Homo sapiens: one gene and its partners. The protein of the gene in region 4 purifies or fractionates together with the protein of the main gene of each other region. This does not show direct contact. Each region holds a gene or a part of one and is shown on either strand. Other genes may lie near its edges.

What was found.
Region 1: the proteins of YBEY (region 4) and TRMU purify together in Homo sapiens (affinity purification with mass spectrometry; 2 studies listed by BioGRID and IntAct, with this or other methods). This does not show direct contact.
Region 2: the proteins of YBEY (region 4) and TFB1M purify together in Homo sapiens (affinity purification with mass spectrometry; 2 studies listed by BioGRID and IntAct, with this or other methods). This does not show direct contact.
Region 3: the proteins of YBEY (region 4) and SIRT5 purify together in Homo sapiens (affinity purification with mass spectrometry; 2 studies listed by BioGRID and IntAct, with this or other methods). This does not show direct contact.

What each region holds. Positions count from the first base shown.
Region 1 is NC_000022.11:46,338,714-46,342,213, forward strand, and holds part of TRMU (mitochondrial tRNA-specific 2-thiouridylase 1), read left to right. Parts: intron 1-3,500. UniProt on the Homo sapiens protein: Catalyzes the 2-thiolation of uridine at the wobble position (U34) of mitochondrial tRNA(Lys), tRNA(Glu) and tRNA(Gln).
Region 2 is NC_000006.12:155,283,485-155,286,984, forward strand, and holds part of TFB1M (dimethyladenosine transferase 1, mitochondrial), read right to left. Parts: intron 1,794-3,500; coding exon 1,674-1,793; intron 1-1,673. UniProt on the Homo sapiens protein: Mitochondrial methyltransferase which uses S-adenosyl methionine to dimethylate two highly conserved adjacent adenosine residues (A1583 and A1584) within the loop of helix 45 at the 3-prime end of 12S rRNA, thereby regulating the assembly or stability of the small subunit of the mitochondrial ribosome.
Region 3 is NC_000006.12:13,595,101-13,598,600, forward strand, and holds part of SIRT5 (NAD-dependent protein deacylase sirtuin-5, mitochondrial), read left to right. Parts: intron 1-376; coding exon 377-464; intron 465-1,862; coding exon 1,863-1,916; intron 1,917-2,627; exon of another isoform or gene 2,628-2,764; intron 2,765-3,500. UniProt on the Homo sapiens protein: NAD-dependent lysine demalonylase, desuccinylase and deglutarylase that specifically removes malonyl, succinyl and glutaryl groups on target proteins.
Region 4 is NC_000021.9:46,289,342-46,292,841, reverse strand, and holds part of YBEY (endoribonuclease YbeY), read right to left. Parts: intron 1,509-3,500; coding exon 1,380-1,508; coding exon of another isoform or gene 1,353-1,379; exon of another isoform or gene 324-1,352; intron 1-323. UniProt on the Homo sapiens protein: Single strand-specific metallo-endoribonuclease involved in rRNA maturation.

The sequences.
Region 1 (3,500 bases), on a different chromosome or scaffold from region 4:
GGACCGTTGTAAAGTTTGGCTGGACTTTTGTTCCTGCAGTGGAAGGAGTGTAGGGCTCATCCTCTGGTGAGCCCTGACTGTGATGAATGTCGGGCAGTTGTCGAAGGCGTCTGACACAGCAGGCCATGTGCGCGGGACAGGCTGCCCCTGCCTGAGTGGGCTTTAGGGGCAGAAGAGCCTTGGGTTGAGTCCTGACTGTAGCTTATTATATGACCTTGGGCAATTTACTTGACTTTGTTTTTTTAATTGAAAAAAATTCTCTTTTTTTCCTGCCAACAAAGACCCAGAAGAGATACTTGACTTTTCTAAGCCCCAATTTTCTCATCTTTAAAATGAGGATAACACTGATGCCTCACAGGGTTATGAAAGAATTGAGATTAGGTTCTAGTATGTATGCCTGGTATATTAGTAAGCAGTCAATAAACATAGCTGTTTTTCTTTTCTATTTTTTTTTGAGACAGAGCCTCGCTCTGTTGCCCAGGCTGGAGTGCAGTGGCGCAATCTTGGCTCACTGCAACATCTGCCTCCCAGGTTCAAGCGATTCTCATGCCTCAGCCTCCCAAGTAGCTGGGATTATAGGCATGCACCACCACGCCCGGATAATTTTTGTATTTTTAGTAGAGACAGGGTTTCGCCATGTTGGCCGGGCTAGTCTCAGACTCCTGACCTCAGAAGATCCACTCGTCTCAGCCTCCCAAAGTGCTGGGATTACAGGCGTGAGCCACCACGCCAGCCTGCTATTTTTATTTTCATTATTAAAAAGATGAGTCTGGGGAGCTAAGCTATGAGGACGCAAAGGCATAAAAATGATATAATGGACTCTGGGGTGAGGGATAAAAGACTACACATCGGGTACAATGTCCACTGCTTGGGTGACGGGTACACCAAAATCTCAGAAGTCACCACTGAAGAACTTATCCATGTGACCAAATACCAGCTGTTGCCCAAAAAACCATTGAAATAACAATAAAACGAAATTTAGAGAGATTAAGTAAATTGACTATGGTCACCTAAATAATCAACGGAAGAGCTTGAATATGAACCCTCTGTGACTCTATGCTATAACATATGGGTGTCGTATATATTAACAACATGGACAAAACTGATGGCTGAATTTTCCTGGGGAAAGTTACCTGTAGAATGCATGATAAATGCATTAAAAACTTATCTGTAGAATGCATGATAAATGCATTAAAAACTTCTGCAGTTTTCTCGGGGACATAAGAAAAAAAAAAGAGTGTGGCGGCCAAATACAGGATAAATCTGGGGGAAGACCAAAGGCAGAGAGTCTCAGGAAGTGCTGTTGCTGGAGATTTGGACTTCATGGGGAGGGAGTGTGGGAGTGGAAGGTGAGGGCTGGCTTGTTGGACCCAGAGGACAAGTCCACCGGGCAGTAGATCTGAGGTGCTTGTTAAACACAGACCTGGACCGAGGTCTGGGGGCGGCCCTGGAATCTGCTTTAATAAGCACTTCAGCTGTGCTGGTGGTGTGGGGGGTTGTCAGGGTCTTTCTTTGAGAAAAGGTGTGATGCGGCTTAGGGACTGATGTGTGTGGGAGACCAGAGAGGAGAGGAGTCAGCAGTAGTTTCAAGATCAAGGCTGGGTGGCTGGGGAAAGCTGGTTTAGGGGATTCCTCATGAGTACTGTAGAGTTTGAGGGGACAACAGGGAATCCAAGTGAGCTTACACTTCACCTGCCAGCACAGCTTTTTCAGAACGTACGAGTGGATGCGATTTTTGAAGTTTAGCTCAGCTGAGGCCAGATAGGAAGAGTGACTTGAATAGTATGGCAAATTAGGAGCGGAGCTGGGATTAAACCCCAGAATTAGGAGCGGAGCTGGGATTAAAACCCAGAATTAGGAGCGGAGCTGGGATTAAACCCCAGAATTAGGAGCGGAGCTGGGATTAAACCCCAGAATTAGGAGCGGAGCTGGGATTAAACCCCAGAATTAGGAGCGGAGCTGGGATTAAACCCCAGAATTAGGAGCGGAGCTGGGATTAAACCCCAGAATTAGGAGCGGAGCTGGGATTAAACCCCAGAATTAGGAGCGGAGCTGGGATTAAAACCCAGCTTTCCAGGCCAGTGCTTGCTGCCGCCTTCTGGCGCTGCTTGATAGGGACTGAGAGAAGGAGGCGGCCGGGTAGAGTCTTTTCCCATCTCTGGGGCTGCCCCCGAGGTCGCCCCTGGCTCCAGCCAGCCTGCCCTCTGCCCTCGCCCAGTACCAGCTGCCCGTGGAGGCATTGGTCTTTCCGCTGAAGACTCACTTCTCTAGTAGGGCTCTCTAGCTCAGAGATTTCTTTTGCATTCTTTCATTCAAGACCCACTGGCCTTCAAGGATCAGAGTCCAGATACGTTTTAGCTGCTGAGTCTTTTAAATCTGTCTCCCTCCCGAGGCACATGAAAGGCTTCTCTTCTTTCCAGTTAGAGAAGAGGCTGGGCTACTCCATTGTTTTTGCTAATGCCAAAACACACGCCTTCCCATCTGCTGTTTACGAAAGGGTTAACAGTGTGTCTTTTCAGAAACTGATTTTAATGTTCAGCCTCTTCAACATTTATTGATGACTGTGATATAGAAAGTTTGTTGGGTCTAGGACACAGACACAGATTGCACCTTAAGTAGTTTATAGTTTAATGAGCTTCCTGGTAACTTTCTAATAATTAAAGCAAAATGGAAAGAGTGTAATAATATCAAGTGTTGTTGCAAATGTGGAAAAACATGAGTTTTTATGAACTTCTAGGGGGACTGAGAAGTAGGAAAACAGTTTGGTGCCTGCTAAAGTGGAAGATATCCAAGGAACCTCTGACCCTGTGCAGATCTGTGATATGTCTGCAAAACACAAACCTCTTGATCAGCACTGGTTTTTTTTTTAACCCTTGTTGATTAATAGAGAGTTTTAGGTTAAATGAAAAAAATCACTTATACCAAAAATACACCCATTTTTAAACTCCCAAAATAGGCATCATAACCCTCTTGAAGTGAATCCTCGAAGACTATGAAATTCTTGGTAAGTTTTGCTGGTATCATGGCATCTTTTTCCCATGTTCAGTCAGTCTGTTAGAGCAGAAGTTCACTGAATTAGGATAGCCTGATCCACTTTAAGCACCCAAGAGTTTGCTAGTTCTCAGAAGTGTGTGTTTGTCACCTGAGGATAGTATTTTTGGTATATTTGCCCAGTGACGCAGCATTCCAGGCTGAGATTGCAGAATGGCTCATGGAGCCCTTGTGTAGGGAAGCCTCTGACTGTGTTTCTCCTCTGTTCTCATCACGGCAGTCATCCTCACGGAAGAAGGCTTCTGTGACAAAGGTGTGGGGGGTTTTCCCCATACAGCAAGCAGTGGACACCGACTGGGTGTCCTCTGATTCAGTTCCGATACCATCTACTTGGAGATAGTGCTGGATCCCAAAGGTTGGGGGTTCAGTCCCCCAGACGGACTCCCCCCACAACAGCAGTCGAAAGTATGGGCCTCTAGAACTTATGACCAACTGGCTTCCAGTTGGGA
Region 2 (3,500 bases), on a different chromosome or scaffold from region 4:
TATTTTCTTGTGGCCTTAATCCCAGAGAAGGTAAATTTTAATTGATAAACTACATATGTACCTTACCACTAAATCAAAGATAAAGTGGATAATAACTTCGAAACTCCATCAAATAATCTCAACTAGGTAACTAAAACAGAGTTAGAAAGCTTCCACTAAAAATATTCGAATATCTATCCTAAGAACCCGTTAGTAAAACTTAAATAGCCTGGAGATTCTGGATAATGGTCATAACCATAACTATAGAGGCCTATGAGTAAGGATCTTGGTTTTTGATATAATGAGTCTTACACTATTTAAAATGTTATATGCACACACATGTGCATGACAAGAAGAAATCAAGCTACATGGTCACTGGTTTTTTATTTTTATTTTTTTCATTATAATGGCCACCTGTACTAGGAGAGAAAGTCCCTGAAAGCACAAATGTTTTAAATTTGAAGATAACCTATAAGATACCTCCAGTCATCAAATTCTGTCTTGGATCTAATTATTCTAGGAGAAGTCATTCGCAATGTCTCTGAAGTCTGAGATGCTGAAGGGAGGTGGCACCGATAGCAAGCTCCCTGAGCTCGATTTAGAAAAAGCTGACAATTATGTCTGTTACGTAAGGGGAAGATGGCCTGACTTCCTAGTCACCTGAACGCTCAGCTAACTGGCCAAATGGCAAAGAAGTATGAAGGTGGCAGCAAAGAGCATGGAGATCACTTAGGCGTCTTCAAGACAGACAAGTAGATCTAACACTATTGGTTAGGGTCTCCATTCTAAATCTAGAATCTATATCTAAATCTATAGTCACATAATGCATTTTTTTCCATGCTATCTCTTGTTATTTATGAAGGATACATGATGCAAGGGACACTCTGCAAGACCTTATATTTGAGAGTTTTAGGGACCAGTGAGAAATTTCTATTCCTCATGAGGCTGTGAACTCCCTGAAGGCAGACTCTGTATCGGATTAGGCTCATATCCCTGTAGACTCCCCTTGCTACCCAACGCATTTTCAAACAGTAAATGCTCAATATACATTCACTGAAGAAAAAGATGAGTTTTTAATAGTACACATCTTGTAATAACTCACCAAGCAGTGGTTTTGCTAAAACAGACAACGGTTTTTTTAATTTTAATTTTTGGCAGAGAAACTCTGTTTCTGTAACTAGCACTTACTCACATAACTAGCATATAATATCAAAGCCTAGTTTAATATCCAACTGTTTCTTCCACAGATGATTTACCACAAATAACACTACCATAATAAGGTCTCCCAAAAAAGTGTTAAGTAAATAATGTTTGATGTAGCTTTAGTTAGAGGTCTCTAACAGAAAACACAAAAGTATTTTATTTCTTTTCTCAAATATTGGGTGACCGTGTAACTTATCTTCCATACAGGGATACTTTAAGAGTAACATCATGAAGATGAAGATGATGAATGATACTGCCACCAGGATAACATGCATGAACCTAAACATTTAGTCACCCTACCTAAGGAGAACAATTATAGTAAGAACTAGCTATTCATATTACGATTTTTGTGGTTCTTATTCAGAAGTAAAGTACAGTGTCAGTTTGCACATAAACAAAGGTTAGATCCTAGAGGTTATTTCCTATGACACATCCTCAGGGGAACAAACGTCCTAATTCCGATATACTACAACAAATAAGCAGAAACTTACCTCTGGTTTGGGGACAAAAGCTTGTCCTGGAATCGTAAAGATGTGTCGAACATTGCAGAGGTACTGAGCCATAACAGAGAGGCGACTACGCTGTTTGCTTCCTGTATTGGCTGCAAGTCTCTAGAGAGAGACAAAAATGAATTTTAGCAAATAATTAGTCCAGCCTGATTAGATGAAAAAGAGTCAACATTCCATTATTTCTGAACACTAGGTGGACTTTTTGAGGCAAATTTGAAAAGAATGGGCTATCTGACACATGACACACAGCAAACATGGGGAATATTTTCCTCCAACATCAACTGAGGTACACCTAAGAAATGTGAATTATGTCATATATAATGCACTACAAAAATAAGAACATTTGCTCTACCAATGGCTGTTGGGATTTTTGAACCACTGTTATATTCTATAGCAGAAGGTCCTACATAAAACAAGCAATCAATAAATACTTGATGAAGAAATTAGCAAGCATAATGAAAAATGAAAGATGCTTAAACACTTAATTTTCTGAATCACCCCAATATATGAATGAACATTTTAAATGGTGTGCTTTTCAAATTCACTTAATATAGTAAAACCTTGAGTATTCAGAACCCTTGGGAAATTGGCTGTTCTTGACAAATAATTTTTGTAAAACCTAGTAATTTATTCTTTTAAACACTCAAACATTTTTGTTTTGCAATTAATTAGGTATATTTCAATTAATTCATAAATGCAATGCAATTTCAATTAAAAGTCCAACAAGATTTTAAAAATTAATTTCCATATGTATTATATATATATTTAAATTCCATGTAAAATTTATATAAGGCCAAGAATGGCCAGGACGCTCCTGAAGAATACCAACAATGATAGGGGAGCTCACCCTACCAGACATCAAATTGATGCAGGCCCAGACAGATCAATAAAACAAATGCCTCAGAAACAGACCCAAGCACATTAGATATTTAACACACGATAGATGCGATGTAGCAACTGCTAACAGAAAAGGAAGGATCATTCGGTAAGTGACACCGGTGTAATTAGATATCCATAGGAGAAAACAGTAGGTCCTTATCTCATGCCATAACCAAAAAAACTCTAAGCAAATTAACAATAAGTGAAAAGCAAAATTTTAAAATTTTTATAAGCAAATATCTATGACTTCCATGGTAGGGAAGAATTTCCTAAAGATGTAAAAGCAGAGCTATATAAGAAAAGACAGACAGACAGACACACACACATATATGTATATATGTATGTATATACATCTTTCTAAAATATATGTATCTATGTATGTCTTTTCTTATATAGCTTTGCTTTGGGGACAAAATATATATATATGTGTGTGTATATATATGTGTGTATATATATGTGTGTATATATATGTATATATATACATGTGTATATATGTGTGTATATATATGTATATATATACATGTGTATATGTATATGTGTGTATATATGTGTGTATATATATGTGTATATATGTGTGCATATATGTGTGTGTGTGTATATATATATGTATATATACATATATATATATTTTTTTGATCTTGGCTGGGAACAGTGGCTCATGCCTGTAATTCCAGTGCTTTGGGAAGCCAAAACAGGTGGACTGCCAGAGGCCAGGAGTTCAAGATCAGCCTGGGCAACAGAGCAAGACGCCCTCCTCAACAACAATAACAACAAAAACTACTGTACTTTATTAAAATTTTTAATTTCTGTATAATAAAACATTATAAATGTTTGTAAGTCACAGACTAAGAGAAAGTATTTGAAATTTATAGTGTTCAGAATACAGATGAAATTCCTGTACATCAATAATCATAAGATAAATAGCTAATA
Region 3 (3,500 bases), on a different chromosome or scaffold from region 4:
TTTATTTTTCCTCCAGATTATAAAGTCCTTGAGGGCATATGCTCTTGACTGGCTTAAGAGTACTGCATGCCTCTGTTTCCCATGAAAGCTAAAGCTAGGGTAGGCCCATTTGCTAAAATGAAGTATGGCTCAGTGTGGCGGTGCACACCTATAGTCCCAGCTGCTCAGGAGGCAAAGGTGGGAGGATCGCTTGAGCCCATGAGTTGGAAGCTGCAGTGAGCTATGATCGTACTGCTACACTCCAGCCTGGGTAACTGGGTGAGACCAAAACATGAAATGAAGTGTGAAAAATAAAGTATCTTATACCCTTTTAGACATGGAGAAGGTTGCTCTTGATTATACTAAATTCTGGATTTGCTTCATATGTATTTTTCAGGTAGCTTATTTAAAACTCGATGTACCTCTTGTGGAGTTGTGGCTGAGAATTACAAGAGTCCAATTTGTCCAGCTTTATCAGGAAAAGGGTAATTATACCACACTACAGAATAAGTATAGGTTGTTTTCTCCTTTAGGTTGAACATAAATGTGAGGAAATTGAACATTCATCAAAGATTCCCATGGATATTTATGAGAAATAAGACTAAATACAAGGCTGGGTGCAGTGGCTCATGCCTGTAATCCCAGCACTTTGGGGTTACAAGGTGGGGAGACTGCTTGAGTTCAGGAGTTCAAGACCAGCCTGGGCAACACAGTGAGAAACCTGTCCTACAAAAAAACAAAACAAAACAAAAAACCACAAAAATTAGCTGGGTGTGGTGGCACATGCCTGTAGTCCCAGCTACTAGGGAGGCTGAGGTGGGAGGGTTATTTGAGCCTGGGAAGTCAAGGCTGCAGTGAGCTGAGATCATGCCACTGCACTACAGCCTGGGTGACAGAGGGAGACCCTGTCTCAAAAAACAAACAAACAAACAAAAAAACTAAATATAGCCATGTGATAAAAGAAATATTTTGCTCACAACTTACAGTGTTAAGTGAAAACCACAGGGTCCTAAATTTGTACACACAATGAGTTCGTGTATCTGTATATAGTTAAAAGACCAGAAGAAAATACAACAAAATGTTAATAAGGAATATCAGGAGTGGAGGGATTATGGGTAATTTTTAATTTCTTCTTTATATCTTTCTGAATTTTCCTATATTTCTATTATGAACATGTACTATTATTACAATGAGGAAAAAATTTGAGGGTAGACACAATATTGAGAAAAATTCCACTCAGCCTTTTAAAAACAGTATAAATTGTATAAGGACTATATAATGTCATTGCAGAGGATACAAATGATGATGATGATGATGTATAAAGGTAAACATGAAGTTCCCCCTTGGCACACCCAGCCACTCCAGCCCTCCCCACACATGCATTCCCTCACTGGCAGTACAACCACTGGTGATTTTTTTTTTTCTGAGACAGGTTCTTGCTCTGTTTCCCAGGCTGGAGTACAGTGGCACAATCACACCTTACTGCAGCCTCCAACTCCTGGGCTCGAGCAATCCTCCTGCCTCAGCCTCCCAAGTAGCTAGGACTATAGGCACACATCACCACACTCAGCTAATTTTTGTATTTCTGGTAGAAATGCAGTCTTACTGTATTGCCGAGGGTTGTCTTGAACTTCTGGCCTCAAGCAGTCCTCCCACTTTGGCCTCACCAAATGCTGGGATTACAGGCATGAGCCACTGTGCCCAGCACCACTGGTAATTAATGGCTTGGGGTCCTTCCTTCTAATGCCCTTCCAAGTGAGCATGTATTAATTAGGAGTTTTATACCACATACTGCCAGGCAAATATACAAACTGAGTTATGTTGTTTCTTTATTTTTTATTATGCCAATAACAATCTTTCTTTTCTAATATTATTTACTTCAGTGCTCCAGAACCTGGAACTCAAGATGCCAGCATCCCAGTTGAGAAACTTCCCCGGTAGGTAGAAAACTCTGATTTGTACTGGTGTTCCAGGTTACCAAAACAAAAAAAAAAACAGACATCAAAACCTAAACATGTATTTGGCAAGACGCCTCTTAAATCAAATGCACAAATGTAAAAACCAGGCTTGATCTCTGAGACCAAAAGTGAAAGGACAAAGGATGAACCAAATTAGGATGAAAAGAATGATTTTTTTCCAACCTCTTTTTGCTTTGTGTTGTGGTAGGATCATTTGAGGTCGGGAAAGTTTCTGAAGCTGTCGTGCGACAGGTGGTTACCCAGTGTACAGAAAGCATAGGGGCTGACCTGTAACTGGTCAAATAACATCACTGGCATTATTAATCCAGGGTTAGGGAGGCAATGAAAGGACCTGAATAGGAGAGGTTACAGGACCAAACAGAATGTTCATAGATTAAAAAAAAAAAAAAAAAAAAGGAAGATTTTTATGCCAATTTTTCAAAACCAGGCATTAAAACAGCACTTCTATAACCTGTAATTGGATTAGAAGTTTTTTTGTTGTGTTTATTTTATTTTATTTTTTTTTGAGATGGAATCTCACTCTGTCACCCAGGCTGGAGTGCAATGGTACGATCTTGGCTCACTGCAACCTCCACCTCCTGGGTTGAAGTGATTCTTCTGCCTCAGCCTCCCGAGTAGCTGGGATTATAGGCGCCCGCCACCACGCCTGGCTATTTTTTGTGTTTTTAGCAGGGATGAGGTTTCGCCATGTTGGCCAGGCTGGTCTCGAGCTCTTGACCTCAGATGATCCACCCGCCTCAGCCTCCCAACATGCTGGGATTACAGGCGTGAACCACTGCACCCGGCTGGATTAGAGTGTTTTTAAGGTAAAATAAAACAGCACTTCTAAAAGTGTTTCATAGAACATTAATTTAATGTTACGTTGAGACATTACTTGAAAAAAACATGTTAGGCACTCAAATAAATATGGAAATGTTAGACTAAACAAAGTTAAAATATGTTTGCTTTACTGCAGGACTTTTTAGAGCATTTAATCCACATTGCTGCCTTCTAAAAAGTGGTTGTAATACGTATGTTAATGCTTTACTGGCTTATTTAACCACAGAACCTTTTAAATTTTCCTCATGAGGGTTTTAATTGCTAAATATTAAAAGTTTTCTTCTGAAGGAATAGGTAGACCTGGAGGATTCCTGTGATGCAGGAGATTACTATGATGAAAATGGTGTTTGGGGGATGGTTTTAGGAGGTGTATAGAAGGTAACCCTGAGGTAGGAGGGAGTGAAAGAAGAGAGATTTTTAGTAATGGACACAGGAAAGCTGGCTACATACTGGGCCAGAGAGACATGAACCTGAGAGAACATGAAAGGAGGTCATTGATGAAATTAGGGGATGCTTGGGGTGGGAGGCAAATCTGAGTCCAGTATGTCTCCCAGGTCTGGGTGGCTGTGAGCACAAATGTGAGCATAATGAATGAACTGGGAAAGCTTAGCTGAAACAATGTGTCAGCACATCAAGTACATACAGACAAGATAAAAAATAAGGACAGTTCTGCAGGGCGCGGTGGCTCATGCCTGTAATCCCAGCACTTTGGGAGGCCGAGGA
Region 4 (3,500 bases):
CCACTGAGTCCCGGGCACGGGTCAGGCTAACCGCGGGAGGAATTTAATCTAGAGTTTAACTTGTGTGGCTGACTCCACTGAGTCCCGGGCACGGGTCAGGCTAACCGCGGGAGGAATTTAATCTAGAGTCTAACTTGCGTGGCTGTCCCCACTGAGTCCCGGGCACGGGTCAGGCTAACCGCGGGAGGAATTTAATCTAGAGTTTAACTTGCGTGGCTGTCCCCACTGAGTCCCGGGCACGGGTCAGGCTAACCGCGGGAGGAATTTAATCTAGAGTTTAACTTGCGTGGCTGTCCCCACTCAGTCCCGGGCACAGGCCAAGCTAACCACGGGAGGAATTTAATCTAGAGTTTAACTTTAAATCAAGAATAGTAATCATCCCTCCCTAAAACGAATCCCCTCCTTGCTCAAGACCGAAGCCACCTCTGTGAAGCTTGTGAAGGGCCACAAGATTAGGATGATGGGAGGGGCCTGAATTCTGCTCAGATGTAGGTGTCCTGAGGAGAACCAGCCCGCAGGCCTTGCTTCCCCAGCTTGCCCTGCTGTAATTCCCTACTGCTCAGGACTCACGCAGCCAGAGGTCACGAGATTTGTGACCGCCCCAATTGCTCCCCAATAAGATAACGTCAATAGTACAACCTAAGAATGGTCTTTTGGGATGTTTTTCAGACTTTTGAGTTCTGGCAACCTACAGACTCCACCTGGACCTGAGACTCATGACTCAGCTGATCCCGTGGCTCCACGCAGAGGCGGACTCAGGGGACAAAAATCGTTGACACCCCATGGTCCGTCTGCAGCCGATCAGCAGCAGGCATTCCCTAGCCCCTGCCTGCCAAATTGCCTGTAGAAACTGTAGCCTCTGAGTTCTCTGGGAGATTGAGTTGAATAATAACTCCAGCCTTTCTGCTTGGCTAGCTCTGTGTTAAACTCTTTCTCTACTGCAATACCACAATTGCAGTGAATTGGTTTTGTCTGTGCAGTGGGCAGGAAGAACCCATAGGTGGATTACACTGAGGAGAAACAGATCTGGAAGGTGGTGGAGGCTCCAACTTCTGTACTTCTGGCAGCTCAGAAAGAAGCTGATTCAGCAGGTCTGTGTTAGCTCAACATAGTCTGCTCTACTCCAGAGATAAAAGCTGAGAAGGCTTCTCTGGGAGCTTCTGTGTTTTCACAGCGTGTTCTCTCCCTCCTTCAACTGTGGCATGGGGCATGCAGTCCCTACCCAGCCTGGGTGCTCCTCACACCCTGCTTACAGGTTCTTCCCCCAGTAGCCCTTACGGTACCCACGGACACACATGGATGCAGGGTTGTGATCTTGACCCCTTTGCAAGGCCCATGTTCCATGAGCCAGGTTATATGATTTCAGCATCCCCGCTTACAGTCAGGACGTCATTGTAATCTTCATTTTCTTTACACTGATGGAAGATATACTCCACTCCTAGGAAAATGTCTCCCAAATTGTAGTCATCTGGAAAATCAGGCTGGGGAAATTCACCTGCTTTCAGATGCTAAAAAATGAGGAAATGTAGACTTAGAGAACAGGAAACGTAACCCAACCACAGGTTGACAGGTTTCATCCTGGTTAATCCCAAGGCAAATAAGCACTTATCTCTGAGCCAAATCACTTTTTTTTTTTTTTTTTTTGAGACGGAGTTTCACTCTTGTTGCCCAGGCTGCAGTGGAATGGCGCGATCTCGGCTCACTGCAACCTCTGCCTCCCGGGTTCAAGTGATTCTCCTGTCTCAGCCTCCTGAGTAGCTGGGATTACAGGTGCATGCCACCGTGCCCAGCTAATTTTTGTATTTCTTTTTTTTTTTTTTTTCCTGAGACAGAGTTTCCCTCTTGTTGCCCAGGCTGGAGTGTCCGCCTCCTGGGTTCAAGCAATTCTCCTGCCTCAGCCTCCCGAGTAGCTGGGACTACAGGCATGCGCCACCACGCCCGGCTAATTTTGTATTTTTAGTAGAGACTGGGTTTCTCCGTGTTGGTCAGGCTGGTCTCAAACTCCCAACCTCAGGTGATCCACCCGCCTTGGCCTCCGAAAGTGCTGGGATTACAGGCGTGAGCCACCGCGTCTGGCCTAATTTTTGTATTTTTTAGTAGAGATGGGGTTTCATCATATGGGTCAGGCTGGTCTCGAACTCCTGACCTCAGGTGATCTGCCTGCCTCAGCCTCCCAGAGTGCTGGGATTACAGGCGTGAGCCACTGTGCCAGCCACCCAAATCACTCTTAAGATGCATGTCTCAGGCCAGAGTGGCAGCTGGGCCTGTGGCGGGTGGGTTGCCCAGCCAACCGTACACAAGTGCCCTAAATTGTTTCCATTGTGAAAATTGTCAGAATAGCCAGGCGTGGTGGCTCACAGCTGTAATCCCAGCACTTTGGGAGGCCGAGGCGGGCAGATCAAGAGGTCAGGGGTTTGACACCAGCCTGACCAACATGGTGAAACCCCATCTCTACTAAAAATACAAAAATTAGCCAGGTGTGATGGCACATGCCTGTAACCCCAGCTACTCGGGAGGCTGAGGCAGGAGAATCGCTTGAACCTGGGAGGCGGAGGTTGCAGTGAGCCCCTAGACTGCGCCATTGCACTTCAGCCTGGCTGACAGAGCAAGACTCCGTCTCAAAAAAAAAAAGGAATTTGTCAGAATAAAAATGGAGCCATTAGGGTTATACAAACAAACCAAAAAACCTGACAAATAGAGCTGGGGAAAGCTATGAAGAGAGGATTCTCATACTTCCATGCCTGATAACAAAAACTGTCACTAAAGATGGCAAAAACTGCAACAAAGGCTATGACAACCTTACACACATACAAAACTGCAACCTTGCACAAAGGCTATGACAACCTTACACACACACACGAAACTGCAACCTTGCACAAAGGCTATGACAACCTTACACACACACAAAACTGCAACCTTGCACAAAGGCTATGACAACCTTACACGCACACAGAAACTTCTGCAAGGATAATCTGCCCAGCAACTGCCTGTCTAACCTTGGACGGACATTAATCTTGTTATTGATCTTTGCAACCAAGGATCATTATCTCAAAACAATTATGTTTTTTTCCTTTAAAAACCTTTGCCAGGCGGGGCTCAGTGGCTCACGCCTGTAATCCCAGCACTTTGGAAGGCAGAGGCGGGTAGATCACCTGAGGTCAGGAGTTCTAGACCAGCTTGGCCAACATGGTGAAACCCCAACTTTACTAAAAATACAAAAAAAAAAAAATTAGCCAGATGTGGTGGTGGGCGCCTGTAATCCCAGCTACTCGGGAGGCTGAAGCAGGAGAATCGCTTGGACCTGAGAGGTGGAGGTTGCAGTGAGCCGAGATTGTGCCATTGCACTCCAGCCTGGGTGACAGAGCAAGCCTCCGTCTCAAAAAAAAAAAAAAAAACAAAACCCTTGCCTTCCTTTACCTCCCTGAATATGCGAATATCCACACAGTCTACTATGGCATGTGGCATGTATTTTCACTGCAATGCTCTATCCCAAATAAACA